2 separate regions of the Homo sapiens genome follow, and region 2 is linked to region 1. The links come from fine-mapping of genetic effects on gene expression. Tissue or cell type: whole blood. Region 1 holds a variant in brackets; the other region holds the start of a gene. All regions are shown on one strand. Distances are from middle to middle.

The links. PIP is the estimated chance that this variant, and not a neighbour inherited with it, causes the effect.
Region 2: it holds the start of RBM22, and the variant in region 1 is fine-mapped to the expression of RBM22 in whole blood (TOPMed, PIP above 0.99).

The regions. Positions count from the first base shown.
Region 1 is chr5:150,655,833-150,663,930 of GRCh38, reverse strand. It overlaps SYNPO (synaptopodin), which reads right to left. Exons shown (of 3, transcript NM_007286.6): 3 at 4,724-7,527. The coding sequence ends at 6,844. It overlaps MYOZ3 (myozenin 3), which reads right to left and starts at 2,680. Exons shown (of 7, transcript NM_001122853.3): 1 at 2,504-2,680; 2 at 929-990. The coding sequence starts at 989. RefSeq lists silencers at 7,130-7,189, 7,330-7,549. The variant A/C (reference allele first, on the strand shown) is at 3,877.
Region 2 is chr5:150,696,626-150,704,723 of GRCh38, reverse strand. It overlaps RBM22 (RNA binding motif protein 22), which reads left to right and starts at 3,662. Exons shown (of 11, transcript NM_018047.3): 1 at 3,662-3,792; 2 at 4,227-4,280; 3 at 5,453-5,482; 4 at 6,093-6,225; 5 at 7,833-7,933; 6 at 8,019-8,098. The coding sequence starts at 3,739. RefSeq lists enhancers at 2,867-3,643, 3,644-4,420.

The sequences.
Region 1 (8,098 bases):
GCCTCCAACTCCTAGGCTCAAACGATCCTCTTGCCTCAGCCTCCTGAGTAGCTGGGACCACAGGCATGTGCCACCATGCCTGGCTAATTTTTTTTTTTTGTAGAGATGGAGTCTCACCATGTTGCCCCGGCTGGTCTCAAACTCCTGGGCTCAAGCAATTCTTCCACCTCAGCCTCCCAAAGTGCTGGGATTAAAGGCATCAGCCTCTGTGTCCAGCCCCTAAATTAATTTTTAAAATACCTGAAATCCTCTAAAGTAGACCAAATAAACAGATTCCAAAATTGTATCAAGAGTTCCTCAAGAGGTCTTCTAAAATTGATAAAAATGAATTTAAACTTTTTTAATGAAATGATAAAAATGATTTACTCATTTGATGAATCAGCTTTAAGTAGAAAGTTTTGTATTCAAATGGGCAGCCTGCTCTTCCCACCCTGCTCCACTCTCTCGACTCCCCTGTCTTCCCACCCTACTCCACTCTCTCCACTCCCCTCTCTTAGCCATGGGGCCCAGCCATCCTGGGCCACCCAGAGGCCTCGGTGAGACCCACAGGAGTAATAGGCAAAGGCAAGTGTGTGCAGAGCTTGCAGCCACAGGTAGGGCTGGAGTTGGGACCAGAGTCTTCAGAGCTTAATTTGGGGCTGAGGTGAGGCCTTAGATGAAGCCAGGGCCAGGGTCATTTTAGAGCCAAGGCCCAGCCTGGGACACTCAGCCTCAGCTCCTGGGTCTGTGGACAGATGGGCAAGACCCCTCCCAGTGCCTCAGGGAAGCTTCCCAGCCTAGGCAGCAAATTCTACAGGCACTCCCTCAGAGCTGGCCTGGAGCTCACACCTGTCTGCCCAGGCCTGGGGCCAGCAGGCCAGAGTGAGTGCAGCCTGGGAGCAAGGAAATGATGGAGTCTGAGGAAGGCATGAGGCTAGAACCACCTTACCTGGTTCAGTGAGGTCCCCCATGGCAGCCATCACTGGCCCCTTCTGCTCCTTGGGGATCATCCTGTGGAGGAGAGACCCCCATAAATGGACCAGGCTGCCTCCATTTCTCCCCAGACCTCCTTCCAGTCTCTGGTTCACCCTGCCCCAGTCCTGAACAGCTTTAGGCCAGCCCCAAATCACAAGCAAGGGATGTCTGAGCTGGAAGGGACTTCAGGGTCTCCGTGCAGAGGAGACTGAGGCCCAGGGAACGAGAGGGAGGTGCTCAAGTTTGCACGAATCTATTTTCATGTTGCTAGGGAAGCACTGTCTCTTCAGGGGTGGTTTCTAGGGCCTTTTCCCAGCTCTGGCATCCTGATCAGAGGGAGAGTAGGTGCCAGGGGCATCCGGGTGGGGCAGGCAAAGGTCTCAGGCACTACTGTCATCGGTTGACCCAGGAGAGTCCTAGTCCAAGGCTGAAAGAAGTTGGAGGTTTAAGTTAGGGGAAGGGGGAGGATGGACTAGGTTGGGGTTACACTGGGGTCTGCAAGGCTGGTGAGCCCCTTTCATCCTTGGCACTTGGCCCTGACGCTTGAGGGCACAGGCTGGTCCAACCAAGCAGAGAGAACCATCCCCCGTCCTCCCCATCTCCCCGCTACTGGGCTAACTTCCGTGGTGTTCTCTTCTCCCTCGTCCCTTCTCTTCCTCCTGTTCCATCCCCCTATTTGTATCTCATGGCACTTTCAAAGAATCTTGGAAGAGATTTGCAAATAAAATGAGGTCCAGAGCCCTTAACTTGCCCAGGTACCTTAACTTGCCCTCTGGAGAAGAGGCAGAGCCCTTGAGCTCCTCGACTGACCACCCACCTGGGTACCCTTCTCCTTTGCCTCCAGGTTTTCCTATACTCCTTCCTTTAGAAAACAATCTGCCTTCATCTGTATCCCCAACACCGACAAGGGGCCCTGGGAGTCAGTGGGCACTGCATTGTGCAACTGGAGTCTAGTGGGTGTCCCTGGCTTTCTCTGTAACTGCGAACAAGTAGCTTTCCAGCTCTGCACCTCAGTTCCCCCATCTGTAACAGTAGGGGGTTAGGCTAAATCACAGAGATCCATGGATGGGCTTTAGGGTGTTCACAAACCCCCTAAAACTATACGTAAACATGAGTGTGTCTACATGCATTTGGGGTGAGGGTCATGGGATGATTGAGAATGCCTCGATCACAACCGTTTAGGATTCCACAGTCCACAGATCTGTTTCTTGATAAACACTCCCTTTACAGAAATTCACAGATGCTGGGAAGGGTCTCTCATTTTACAGAGAAGCTGCTTCCCTCTACTGCCTAAAAATCCCAAAGTCCTGAGCAGAGCCATTACCTATTCCCCACCTTTAATCCTAGCCACACCCTCCCCATTTAATGCAGGGTAACCTAGAGCTTAGAGTTCCTCTCCTCCCAAACCAGGATCGAGGCTTGCATGGGGCCCCAAACTCCCTAGATCCACTGCAGGGCCCTTCCTCTCCGGGGGAAGGAGCTCTGGGGATTGGCTCACCTCCTCTGCCCACTCCCCTGAGTTCCCCAAGCTCCCCTAGGATGCTGGTACCTGAGAGGATGGGACCACAATAGGCAGGAGGGAATCTTAGACCCTCAAGATTAACACCTCTGTCGGGAAGCTGAGAGTTGCGTGGCGTCCCTGTAGGCAGTCAGCGGTCAGCAGTCAGTAGGCAGCGAGCAGGGTGTCCCCTGCAGCCAGCTCTGGCTTCAGCTGATGAGAATCATTCCTGCCTTGCCATGGGTCACAGCCTTATTTCGGGCTGCAATAGGAGCTGGAGCCAGAGGCTAAAAGCACCAGACCCTAGGGAAGACAGGTGCCCTGGCAACAGGCCTGTGCAGACAGAGGGCTTGCACCCACGTGTACACACACACTCACATATGCACACACCAAAGTCACCTGGAAATGTTGAGGGTCAGCTGCTGGTAGCTTCCGCTTGTTAACTGTTATATCCTTAGTGCCAAGAATGGTGCTTGATAGGAACTCAGCAGATATTTGTCGAAGGAAGGAATGGATGGATAGATAGATGGATGAATGAATTGCTCCTCAATATCTTTGCTTGACTTATCCTTTTCTTCCTTCCTTTCTTCTCTCCTGCCTTTCTTCTTCTGCCTCCTTCCTGCCTGCCTTCTTTTCTCCCCTCCTCCCTCCCTCCCTCCCTCCCTCTACCTTCTCACATTCCCTGAGCCTCTCTCTAAGGACTGAAAATAAATAAGGCAGGGCTCTGTCTTCAAGGAGCTCAGCCAGGTCAGATTCAGACGGGTAAACAAGCTTTGGGGAAGGCTCTGGGAGAGCCCAGGGGAGGGAGTTACCAGCTCAGCCTGGGGTGGGGGGTGAGAAGGCTTCCCAGAGGAGGACACACTGGAGTTGGGCCTTGAAGGATGAGTGGGAGTTCACTGGGCAGAGAAGGGGCATGGCAGGCAGTGGACATGTCACCTACAAAGATGGGTAGGGGGTTGGCAAGTAGAGCCGGAGCTGGGGGCAGTGCTGAGAGATTAGCCCAGACAGTGGGGGCAGCGGCCAGATCCCAGCAGGCTTTCAAAAGGAAACTGTGTTTATAAAGGGTTGCTGACAAGATTAAAGTGGTGAAATGGAGTGATCGGATTGGCATTTTCCAAAGATATCTTTGCTGCCATGTGGGAAATGGGTTGGAGGGGGCCAGACTGGAGGCAGGAGGACCTGACTGTCACCAGGGGTGGCTGGATCAGGGCAGTGACAAGGAGATGGAGAGGAGAGGGAGTTGAGGGTTATTTGAAGAACCCTTGGGTCTTGGTGAGGAACTGGATGTGGAAGGTGAGGAAAGGGAGTCCCACTCCCCTGTTTCATGCTTGGGTGACTGGAAGGGGAGGAGCAGGAGGGGTGGGGGCAGACACTGAGGTCAGTTTTGGATGAACTTTGAGGTGTCGGGGGACTGGGATGAGATC[A/C]CCAGTAGGCAATGGGACACTGTGCTGCAGTGAGGCCCCAGCCGAAGATAAAGATTGGGTCCAAGGCACACACTCCTGGGGAAGGGTGGGCCTAGCAAGGATGGGCTGGGTGCAGGGTGGGGACCACCGGTGTCTGTGTGCTGGCAGACTATCCTGGGGTGTATTTCTGACACCTCTCAAATCAGAAGCCTAGATTCTGCTGTCCACCACCCTGACCTTAGCTTCCTGGCCCTCGGTGGGCCTGAGCTTCTAGAGAGGAAGAGTGAGGTGTGTTCCCAGGGCAAGCTTAGCCTCACCTGGGAGCAGGATCACAATCCCCTTCTCTGGCCAAAGGACACTCCTGCCAGGAGAGGATGCCTCATGGCCCGAGTCCTTGCCTCACTGGGGCTGCCTGGCTCAGACGGGACCTCTTACAGTGGCGCCTTTCCTGCCCTGGCACCCCCACCTGCCATGAGGAAACAGCCTCAGAGCACAGAGCCCTGACCCAGCTTGGCCCTGCCCACTCTGGTGATAGTGCTCTGTGGTCAGGGCCTGGACAATACCACCCTGAGACATTACCTAGACCCACTCTCCCCATTATACGGATGGGGAAGCTGAGGCCTAGAGAAGGAGTGGGCTCACCCAGGGTCACCCCGCTCGTCCATGACAGGACCAGGACTGCAGTCCAGGTACTTCTATGGCCTCAAGTTGTCCGTTGTTCCCATCTCTCCCCATGGCTGCTTCTTCCCAAGCTCCCATCCCATATGTCTCAAATATTCCCAGCCACCCAGAGTCCCATGGACTGCTCCATGCTTGGGGAGAAGGGAAGGACATCAGACACAGCTGAAAATGACACAGGAGGCAGAAGAATGCAGGAAGCATTTATTGAGGGCCAGAGCTGCATTCTACAAGAGGCAAGAGGCAGGACACAGGCAATCTCTAGTGGGTTAGAGGAGAGGTTGGGGAGAGGGCAGTGACAATGAGAGAACAGCCAGGCGCTGGCTTGGGAACTGCCGGTTTCTCAAGGCTGCCTCCTGCTAGTCCTCTGGGAAATGCAGGTAGAAATGGATCCTCTATGCTACTGCCTCAGCCAGAGGCCTGATGGTGTCCCTTCCCTGGGAGGGGCCCTTAGCCCCAGTCTCCTGTGCTACAAGGGACCCAGCAGCAGGTAGGGGCTTTGGTAAATATAGTCACTCATCATTAACTGAGTAAGAGCACCTTCTCATCTTCACAGCAGCAGGAGCATTCCTGAGGCCCAAGGAGCCCTCTAAGGTCACTCTTTCATTCCAAAGCACCCTGTCCCAACCCTATCTTCCATACTGACCTTAACTCCCTCCAGCCTCACTTGGGGGTTCCAGATCTAACATCACCCCGGTAAGTCCCAAACCCAAACTGTCCCTCACCTTTAGCAACATCCTGGTATCCTTTCACCTACATACGTTTGATCCTCAGCCAATTCCATACCCCCAGCTGATCCTGAAGCTAATATTCTGAACCTCTAGAAGGCTCTACCAGCCAACTCTGGAAACTACAGAACTCAGCCATATTCCTCCCTGAGTCCCCCCTGGGGACCTGAATCACAGCCACCAAGGTTTAGGGAACCAGTGAGGGCCTGCAGCCAGGCTCCCCCAGGTCACTGGGCACCAGGCACTAGCTAGGTCAGAGTGCACTGGGGAAGGGATGGGGCAGGATAATGTCTACTTTTCTGGGCACGATATGGACACTGGGACTGAGGTCTGACACTGAAGAAGGGGACATTTCCAAGGGGACCAGAAATACAGGCAGACCCTAACTTAACACCCTGCTCACGTACCCAAGCTCATCGGCCCCTAAATTCAAGCCCAACTAGCCCACCACCACCACCCACCCCCGACTTCCTAATATCATGGAATGCATTTCAAGACTGGAAGAGCCCTCAGGGGTCATCTGAGCCAATCCTGTCCCCTGCTAGAATCTCCTCTATGCATCCTGGCCATGCTTTTCATATTTCCCGTAACAAGTAACTCTTTGTCTCTCTCTTTCCCAATAAGCAACCCCAAACTGAGGGCAATCAGGTAAAGTCACATGGTAGCTCTGTATCTCTTCTCTCCCCAGTTCAGCTTTGAGCCCAGAACCTGCCATGAATGGGCCCAGAAGGAACAGATGAGCTGGAGGCCCAAGTCCTGGGCCTAAGGGAAATCACTGCCTTATAATTCTCTTATGGCTGCAGATAAGATGTCCTGGACAGTCTGAACTGGGATGGAGAAAGTAGCATGACAGGGACCCGGGGAGAATTTTCCTGCCTCTTCCCTCCAGAGGGGATAGTGGGACACCTTGAGCTGGCCTGGGAGACCTCTCTAAAGGTCATTGTGATAAAAATAGAGCTTGTCTGGGAAGGGATGGAAAACAGCTGCTCCTGCCTGGGACTTGGTGCCAGGGAGCCGGATGGTCAGGCCAGTGCCTGGACATGCGACACAGGCCTAGGACCTTCTGAACACACCCCGCTTGCCAGACTCCAGACAGCAGAGCCAGGAGGGGAGGGACGAGTATGGAACCCTGAAGGTAGCAAGTCCAGGGGTCCATATACACACTGCCCCGCCTCATCCAAGGCACTAACTAGTGTGTGTGTGTGTGTGTGTGTGTGTGTGTGTGTGTGTGTGTGTGAGAGAGAGAGAGAGAGAAAGAGAGAGTGTGTGTGCATCGGTGTGTGTACTGATGGGAAGGGGAATTTTGACGTTTGTGGATTGCCTTGGCCAAAGCCACCATTAAACAGATGGGAAAGCTGAGGGTCAAACAAGGAAGGGTCTTACCCAGGGTCACACAACAGCTGAATGAGAGCAAGGGCTAGAACTCAAGCTTGCGTCCCTAACCCATCCCCAACCCCAGAGCTCTCCTCTGCTGACCCCTCATCTCTGGGGCTGCCCAAAGAGGCCAGACCCTTTGGGTCCCCCAGGTCTAATGAGCCTTCTTCTGGCTCTGCCCTCCCGGGGTGGGGTCGGGGGTGGGGCTCTAGGTGGTGCAGGAGGCCTCGGCGGGGAGGCTGCCACGCTTGAGCCGAAGGCTGCCATTCCACCCGCGGGGACAGATATTGTAGCCCAGGATGCCTGGAGACTTAGCCCCGGAGTCCTCGGAGTCGAGGGACACGTCGGAGTCCGTGGGCGAGCGGCGGTAGAGGAAGGGCCTGGGAGGCGCGGGCAGCGGGCTCCGGGGACTGGTGCAGGACGAAGGACCGGCGGGCAACGGGCTCCGCGGGATGGGCGCGAAGGCTGCCCCCGGCACAGCAGCCGAGCCGGGGCGGGCGGGCTGTGGCGAGCGCATGCGCGGGGGCGGGGGCGGGGGCGGGGGCGGGGGCGGTGGCGCCCTCGGCGGGGAGAAGGGCCGCGGGTTCTCGGCGCCCGCCGACCGCGGGGAGGCGCTCTTGCGCCGGGCCGCATTGATGATGTTTCGCGCCAGAAGCGCCTGCAGCTGGCGGCTGGGGGGCCGCGCCTCGGTCTCAGGTCGCAGCGGGGACACCGAGCGCTCGCTCCACGAGGGAGACATGGGCGGTGGCGGCGGCAGCGGCGGGGGGCTGCTCATGCTGCTCCCGCGACCTGGCTCCCACGGGCCCGGGCTCACCCAGCCGTCTAGGCTGCTGGGGGGCCGGGACGCGCCCGGCGTCCAGGGTGGGGAGGTGGGCAGGCTCTCCCGGCGGTCCTGGGGAGAGAGCAGAGAGGGTGGGGCAGGCATTAGTGCTGAGGTCTTCCACACCGGGCTTTAGGAAGGGACGGAGTCCGATTTGTCCATTACACCGAGAAGGGAAGCCACCGATCCAAGTCAGGTAGTGCCTGCAATAAAACGCAGGCGCCCAAACTCTCAGCCCGGAACGCCTGAAGAGTCCCCGCTGTCTTGTGTCTGCCTCCGTGTTAAGAAGACTCGCTTTGGAGAGAGCCGCCTTAACTTACTAACTGAGCTTGGGCAAGTTACTTCACCCCTCTGGGCTTCAGTTTCTGCTTCTGTAAAATGGGGTGTGATAACAGTACTTAACCTTATAGGGTTGTTGTGAGGGTTAAATGAGATAACTGATGGAAAAGAACATTACATATATCGGCACATTCCTTGGAAGAAAGTGCTCAATAGATGTTGATTACCATAAAGAAATACCAGAAGGGCTTGGCGCGGTGGCCCGCGCCTGTAGTCCCAGCACTTTGGGAGGCCGAGGCGGGTGGATCACCTGAGGTCAGGAGTTCGAGACCAGCCTGGCCAACATGCAGAAACCCTGTCTCTA
Region 2 (8,098 bases), 41 kb before region 1:
AGTTAATTTTCAGTGAATCTTAAGAGGGCAAAGGGGAACTTTTCTGTTGGCCCCTACAATGTTAAAAAATCTGGTGGAAAACATGGAGCCAGGTGCCATGGCTCACACTTGTAATCCCAGCACTTTGGGAGGCCAAGGCTGGAGAATCACTTGAGCCCAGGAGTTCCGAGACCAGCTTGGGCAACATGGTGAGACCCTGTCTCTACAAAAAAGTTAAAAATTAGCTGGGCACCGTGGCCTGCTTCTATAGTCACAGCTACTTGGGAGGCTAAGGCTGGAGGATCCCTTGAACCCAAGAATTCCAGGTAACAGTGAGCTATGATCATGCCTGGGTGACAAAGTGAGACCCCCATCTCGAAAAAAAAGAAAAGGAAAATATGGATTATATATATTGTGAAAGGAAATTAAATCTTGGGACCCCAAACTCATTAAGCCAAAGGGAAAAGTCGAGCTGGGAACTGGGTCACACAAACCTGCCTCCTGCTTTTGGTTCCTAAATAAGATGGCTATAAGATGAAAAGCTACATGCCTCCCCCATATGTTGCCCAGTAATTCAGACCCTTCCATTAAACCAGCAAACCTTTTTCATTTACAATCTCATTGGACATGTTTGGTATTCCAGTGCTATGATCACTTAGCTTCAATCTTTGTACCACAGATAGGTATCGAAGATGTTATATGGCATATAGAGGCCATAACGAATTACACCCAAAGGCCCTAAATGGTAGCTGCATGAGTACCTCTTTGCTAAGCAATGAGGTCATGCTTATGAGGAAAGCTGTGTTGCAAAACTATGTGGCTTTAGATATACTCATGGCAGCACAAGGGGAACCTGTGCCACCGTAAAAACTGAATGTTGTGTGTATATTCCAGATGAATCAAAGAACATAAACTGAATTATGACCAGTATGAAAACCCAGATAAGCAACTGTCAGATCCAAAACCCTCACTAATCCATTGCTTGAGTGGTTGGTTTGGATCCTGGGGAATTTAGTGGCAGAAGCTATTGCTTATAATAGAAGGAATAATTTATGTTCTGTCCTGTTTCTGCTTACAATGTTGTTATAGTACGTGTTTGCAAATAAGTCAATATGCAACCGAAAGGGCTAAGGTAATGATTGCCCAGAGAATTGCTTTAATTGAGGAGGCAGTAATATAATAAAGCTTGACCCAGCTTCCAGGTTTGCTTTCCTTTTGTTGCTATAAATCTGGCCTAGTCCCTATATATATTTTTTCATCTCTTTTCTTTTTTCCTTTCTAGGAAAGTAAAATTCCTCACTAGGAATTTCCTTGTGGGCAAAATATGGGGGAGGCATGTAGCTTTCCATCTTGTAGCCATCTTATTTAGGAACCAAAAGCGGGAGGCAGGTTTGTGTGACCCACTTCCCAGCTTGACTTTTCCCTTTGGCTTAATGAGTCTGGGGTCCCAAGATTTAATTTCCTTTCACATTTCCCCCTTTTTTTCTTTAACATCTTTTGGAGAAAGCATTTTAAAAGGAATATGTGTTCCTGGCCTCAGTTCGCTTTTTCCTCCTTTTTTGAGCTGGTTTCTTGTCGCTAGGATGGTTTATTCCAGGAAATTCAGGTCTCACGTTACTAGGAAGGCTCATTCCTAGGAAGTCATGTTCCATGTTGCTAGGAAGGCTCATTCCTAGAAGTCATGTCCCACAAAGATTAAAAAATAAATTGGGGGAGGAAAGAGGGAAAAAGGAAGGAAAGGAGATGATTCTGAGGGCTCCAGACTTAAAGGAGAAAAGGGTCCTATCTCTTTTCTCTTAATGTTAAATGTTATTTTGTTTGTGGAATGTTCACTCTATAATATATATGTTGATTAAGTATACCATTATGCATGATTTGCAATATTGATTGACCTGTGGAGTGCCTTGAGCCTGTGTGTCCAAGACTCTGAGTGCTGAGTGAGTGGGAAGTACTAAGGAGAATTGCTTTCTTGGAAACTCCATGTAGTTCGTGGCTTTTGTGATTGAAATAGCATCAGTAAAAGTCTGGCATTGTGGAAAAACACAAATGTACGTGGACTCTGTTATTTCTGACCTTGCACTCCTCACAAGGCATGTGAAATTGGAGTCACAGATGTAGAAACCAGGCAGAAGACAGTCTGAAGAGATGATACTTGAGAATTTTCCAAATATAATAAAAGACAACAAATCACAGATCCAAGAAGCTCAGATAAACCCAAGGACTTTCTTATAAAGGAAAAGATATACTTACCATATGATCAAATAATCTCACTCTAAGGCATTTACACAAGCAAAATGAAAACCAATGTCCATACAACGATCTGTATGTGAATGTTTATAATGGTTTTATTTATATTCACTAAAATCTGGGAACAACCCAAATATCCAGCAACTGGCAAGTGAATTGTATGATATATCCATACAATGGAATTCTACTCAGTAATACAAAGGAAGAAATTATTGATACATGTAATAATATGGATGAATCTCAACTACAAAATACTAAGTGAAAAAATATCAGATCCAAAAGGATATATAGGATTCCACTTATGTGACATTCTGGAAAAGGCAAAACTAGGGACAGAACACAAATTAGTGATTGCCATGGTTTGAGTATGGGATAAGTGGACTAACTACAGAAACAAGGGAACTTTGGGGATGACAGACAATTCCATATTTGACTGTAAGTGAATGTATGTACAAAATTCAAAACTAAAAAGGATAAAACTTTATGTAAATTATACTTTAAATCAACTTTTTTTTTTAATGAGGTGATTTAAATAAATGTGTTAGGTAGCTTGATGACACGGTAAGTATGAAAGTGGTACCAGAATGGCTTGAAACTCATAAAATATTGGCAGAGTGGTTATGAGTTATTCCAAAAATCAAATAATGCATATGTTGATTCGTAAGACCCTTGTCATTTCAGAAGCTGGAAATGAAACAGTACTAATGAATTTGTGGCTTCACCACTTTTTAGCTCCACAACCAGGAGCTATATCAGGAGAGATTAGGTTAATCTCTCTAAACCTGTTTTCTTTTCTATAAAAGAGGGATCATCATACTTGCCTACAGGGTAGAGTTACCAGATAAAATACAGGACGATTGGTTAAGTGATGTGAATTTCAGGTCAACCACGAATCCTACTTTAGGACGAGTAGGTACCATATATATTTATAATTAAAAAGCGATTCGCCGTTAATCTGAAATTCAACTTTAGACGTTCTGTAATTCGTGCGTGTGTGTGTGTGCATGTGTGTGTGTGAGTGACAGAGAGAGAGAGAGAGAGAGAGAGAGAGAGAGAGAGACAGAATCAGAATCTGGCAGCCCTACAGAGAGCCCTACAGAGAGGTTATGCGAATAAATAAGACACTGGAACCGCAAGACGTTCGCCCAGAGTTTGGCATAATAAGCGCCTCAGTGGTAGCGAACGCTATTTTAACCCCAGCCTCTGATGCATTACGTCTTCCTTTATTCTTTCGCCCAATTGTTAAATGAATCAACTGTACGTGTGGCCCTTCATTCCAAGCAGGCAAAAACTCGAAGGAAGCATCCAGGTGCATTATACCAGGACCCCAATTGTTAAGCTTAGAAATTCCAAGAGCGGGCGACGTCATGACGCAAAGGCCCCGCCCCGGAAGAAGCCCTAGACGCGTAAATAAGACGCCGACCGGCGCGGCGCTAGCCTCGGGGCTTGACGGGATTGTGGCGGTCCTCTCTCCCAATTCGGAAGCTACAGCTACCTCCGGACGCTCTCAAGATGGCGACCTCTCTGGGTTCCAACACCTACAACAGGCAGAACTGGGAGGATGCGGTGAGTGTGCCTGCCGGAGGAGGATGGAAGGAGGAGGCGAAGCCGCGCACCTTGCAAGCTGGCAGGACAGGGCCTGCGGCGCGGCCGAAGGAATACCGGGGAGGAGCCAGCGCGGCGGCCTAGCTTGGCCGGAGCAGGAGGGCGGAGGGCGATCCTCCTGCGGGCTTGAAGGGAGGGGGCTTAGCCAGGGTCCCGGGACCAGCACCCTTTCCATCCCTGCCCCCTCCAGCCTATTAGAGCTGGTTTTCTTTTCTCCCGCCGCCTGCCGGAAGTGCAGACAGCGCCCCCTCCCGCGATCGGGTCGTGATGGACTTCGGGTTCCTGCCGTGCCTAGTTCCCCACCCTCGCTTCCCGCCCCCTCGCCACCCCAAGTGTCACTGAGGTGTCAGGGTCTTCGGAGGGTGGTCCTCAACCAGATTTCCCATTTTCACCAGGACTTCCCCATTCTGTGCCAGACATGTCTTGGAGAAAACCCATATATCCGAATGGTGAGTGATCGCGTGTGAAACGAGTTATTCATGTCCTGTCGATGTTGTGGTACTTGCACACTGTGAAGTGTTTCTCTTAGACAAGCAGAAAAAATGATGCTCTTTTACTAACGCGAAGTGCTGGACGACTTGCAAAGAACTGTCATGTGTATTCTCTTACGAATCCGGTAACACTCCTGTAATGTAGGGGTAATAACGATAGCTAGTATTTGTTGAGCATTTACCTAGGAAATAGGTCTGTTGACCAGAAGGTGAGAGCGTTTGTGTCTTTTCATACAATAGTAAGGAATGGAGCTGGGATTTAAGTTCACATATTCTGGCTCTAGGAATGTCAGCATGATAGGAGGAGAACCAGAACTAGAAACTAGGTTTCCTGAATCCTGGTCAAATGCCTTTTGGCCAGTGTACTTTATCTCTTTAAAGTAAGCATTCCCCCTTTGTTACAAACTAGGGTAAAATTAGAACCAGTTAACAATAATAAGGTTAGGGCTGTATTATTGTGTAGTCGTAGAGGTGTTGATATGTTAGTATGTTCACGATGTTTGAATGGTTCAAGATGTTTGAATAGTTCTGTTTAAACAGAACATTTACTATATTCCGGGCATTGGCACAGGACAAGTCTACAGTAGCTACCTTTTGACTAAACTTTGTAAAGTGGGCGGGCCACAGCTGTATCCTCTCTGATTTAGGGATTGTGGAAAGCATTAGGAATGTTAGTTCTTGGGAGTGAACTTGGGAGCCAAAAATGAACCTAAGAGTTGTGGCTGTGGAAAGACACTCACTTACCTAGCATTAGATGCATATACTCTATTTCTTTTTTCTGTAGAGACAGCATCTCGCTATGTTGCCCAGGCTAGTCTGGAACTCCTGGGCTCAAGCAATCCTTCCACCTTGGCCTCTCAAAGTGTTGGGATTACAGGCGTGAGCCACTGCCACCCAGCCCAGATCCATATACTCTTGAGATGTTATCACTTATAATATGTTGTTATAGTATGTTCCCTACCCTCTTCCCAAAAAAGGTTGGGTTTTGGGTTTTGTTGTTGCTGTTTTTCTCTCTCTAGGATGCCAGGGATTTCCAGACACATTTCTTGGGTTATGTTTAAGGAAAGAGTAGACATCTGGCTTTTTTCTTTCTGTAACTCCAGTTCTTTTCTATTTTTTTTCTATTATAGACCAAAGAAAAGTATGGGAAGGAATGCAAAGTAAGTATGTCTGTTAAAGAGTAATGATTTCTGTTTCATTTTTCTTTTCTCTACCAAATTAGCCTTCAGCTTACTAAGTTTTGAGGTCTTCCAGTAAAAATCAGTGCTATACAACTTTTTATGTATTACTGATATATTCATTGGCTGGCAACTGTTTATGTGGGAGGTAAGAAAATGAACCCTCTAATGTAGAGATTCTTACGGTGTCAGTGGATGGGCACTGGAGGAGTTTGTACACCAGGTGGTGTATGACTGTCCACTCGAGCATTTTAGCTGAGGAGGAAGGTCATTCTTGTCAGAAGCTTCTCAAAAAATTACATGACACTCCCCACTCCCCCTAAAAAAGATTAAGGTTCAGATTATTATTGGTGCTTAGCTCTAGGATGGGAAGAACTTTGACCCTTTGGCTATTTCATTTCTGTACTCTGAATTTTTGCTGGAGAAGGATGCTGAAAATTGTATTGAAACATCAAATCAACTAGATGATTGCTAAGGTCTCTTCTAAATCCTACATTCAGGGATCCTTTTTTGAATGCCCCGTTGTTATCAGATCTCCAGATTGCCCAGATCAGGACCATTGACATTCTATGGCTCTTGCTTTGTGTTCCAGATCTGTGCCAGGCCATTCACAGTGTTTCGCTGGTGCCCTGGAGTCCGCATGCGTTTCAAGAAGACTGAAGTGTGCCAAACCTGCAGTAAATTGAAGAATGTCTGTCAGACCTGCCTCTTAGACCTAGAGTATGGTATGTTTGACCTGTCCAATAAATCTGAAAGTGTGCAGGTGCCTAAAACTACAAGTCAGTCTTTTGTCTCCCACTTCGCACCCTAGCTCTGGTTCTGATTTCACTTTGGAATGTCTGCCGTGGTCTGCTTTTCCCAGGAAAAGAACCATAATTAGGCCACTCTAGAGTCCTGAACAATAGTAGGAACTTAAGGAAAAGTTGGGAATTAATCAAAAGTGGCCTAAACCTTCATCTCTGTAGCCCAAGTGAGGTAAAAGGCGTTGATCCTATGATAGATAATTTATTTGCCTTAGGCTTCTTTCTTGATCCAGAGCTTTTTTCCACCATCCCAATCAGAAGCTCACAGGGTAATTGTGCTTTATTTTATTTTATTTTTTGAGTTAGGGTCTCACTCTGACACCCAGGCTAGAGTACAGTGGTGTGATCACAGCTCACTGCAACTTCGAACTCCTGGGCTCAAGGGATCCTCTTGCCTCTGCCTCCTGGTATACCACCACACCCAGTGCACGTGTGTGTGTGTGTCACTATTTTGCCCAGGCTGGTTTTGAGCTTCTGGCCTCAAGCAGTCCTCCCACCTTGGCCTCCCAGAGCCACTATAGCCAGCCTAATTGTGCTTTAGACTTTTATTTCAATTGTGTTGTTAGAACTGATATATTGCTACTGTTTCAGAGTAACTGCTTTTGGGAGTAATTTTTTTTTTAACCATAGGTGACTGTTTTTCAGAAAGATAATTTTTCAACAAGAGTTTTTACTATTAAAGGAAAGGGAAAAATATATGAGTTTATGTATGTTAAGTTCATTAGAGTTACTCTTCTAGTCAGAGTCCTGGCCACATTTTATGTAATATTATTTATATGTTTGTTAAGGAGGCGTCTGGTCCTGGAGTACAGTGACCCTTAGATGACTGTGACTATCCAGAGGATCTGTAAGACTAACCTAGAAAGAAACCACTTTTACATTTACTTTAAATAAATCATGTTGTAATAAAAACTAGGAGCTAATTTACAGGTTGAATATGACCATGGGCACAGTTTGTTCATCTAAAAATTTTCTTTTATAATTTTTTTGTTTTTTGTTTTTGAGACAGGGTGTCACTCTGTTGCCCAGGCTGGAGTGCAGTGGCATGGTCATGGCTCACTGCAGCCTTAACCTTTCCAAGCTCAGGTGATCCACCTCAGCCTCCTGGGTAGCTAGGACTACAGGTGCATACCACCACACCCAGCTAATTTTTGTATTTTTTGTAGAAATGGGGTTTCACCACGTTGACCAGGCTGGTCTCGAACTCCTGGACTCAAGCTATCTGTCAGCTCCAGCCTTGCAAAGTGCTAGGATTACAGGCATGAGCCACCACACCCAGCCTAAAAGATTTTTTCTAAAGCATTAATTTCATCAAATTTCCTGACAGTTCAGGAATTTGGACAATTTCTTAGCATGCTGTGTAGCAGAAGTAACCTGATGGTGCTAAAGAGTTTGAATAAAAACATAGTAAAGTCTCTGGTACTAAATAGGAAAGAGGAGAAGGGAAAGATGATGTATTCTGTGTGCATGGTTAGTATGGATATGTTTTAAAATACATCTGAGGTCTTTTTCCTCTTTTTTTGTACCAGGCCTGCCCATCCAGGTTCGTGACGCAGGATTGTCTTTTAAAGATGACATGCCAAAGTCAGATGTCAACAAAGAGTACTATACACAGAATATGGAGAGAGAGGTATGCTGCCACTTTTTGGATAAAAATCCTAATGAATTGACACAGTCTGTATAATTTATCTTTTGAATTTGTCATCCCCACTTAGATTTCTAACTCTGATGGAACACGGCCAGTTGGCATGCTGGGGAAAGCCACATCTACCAGTGACATGCTGCTCAAACTGGC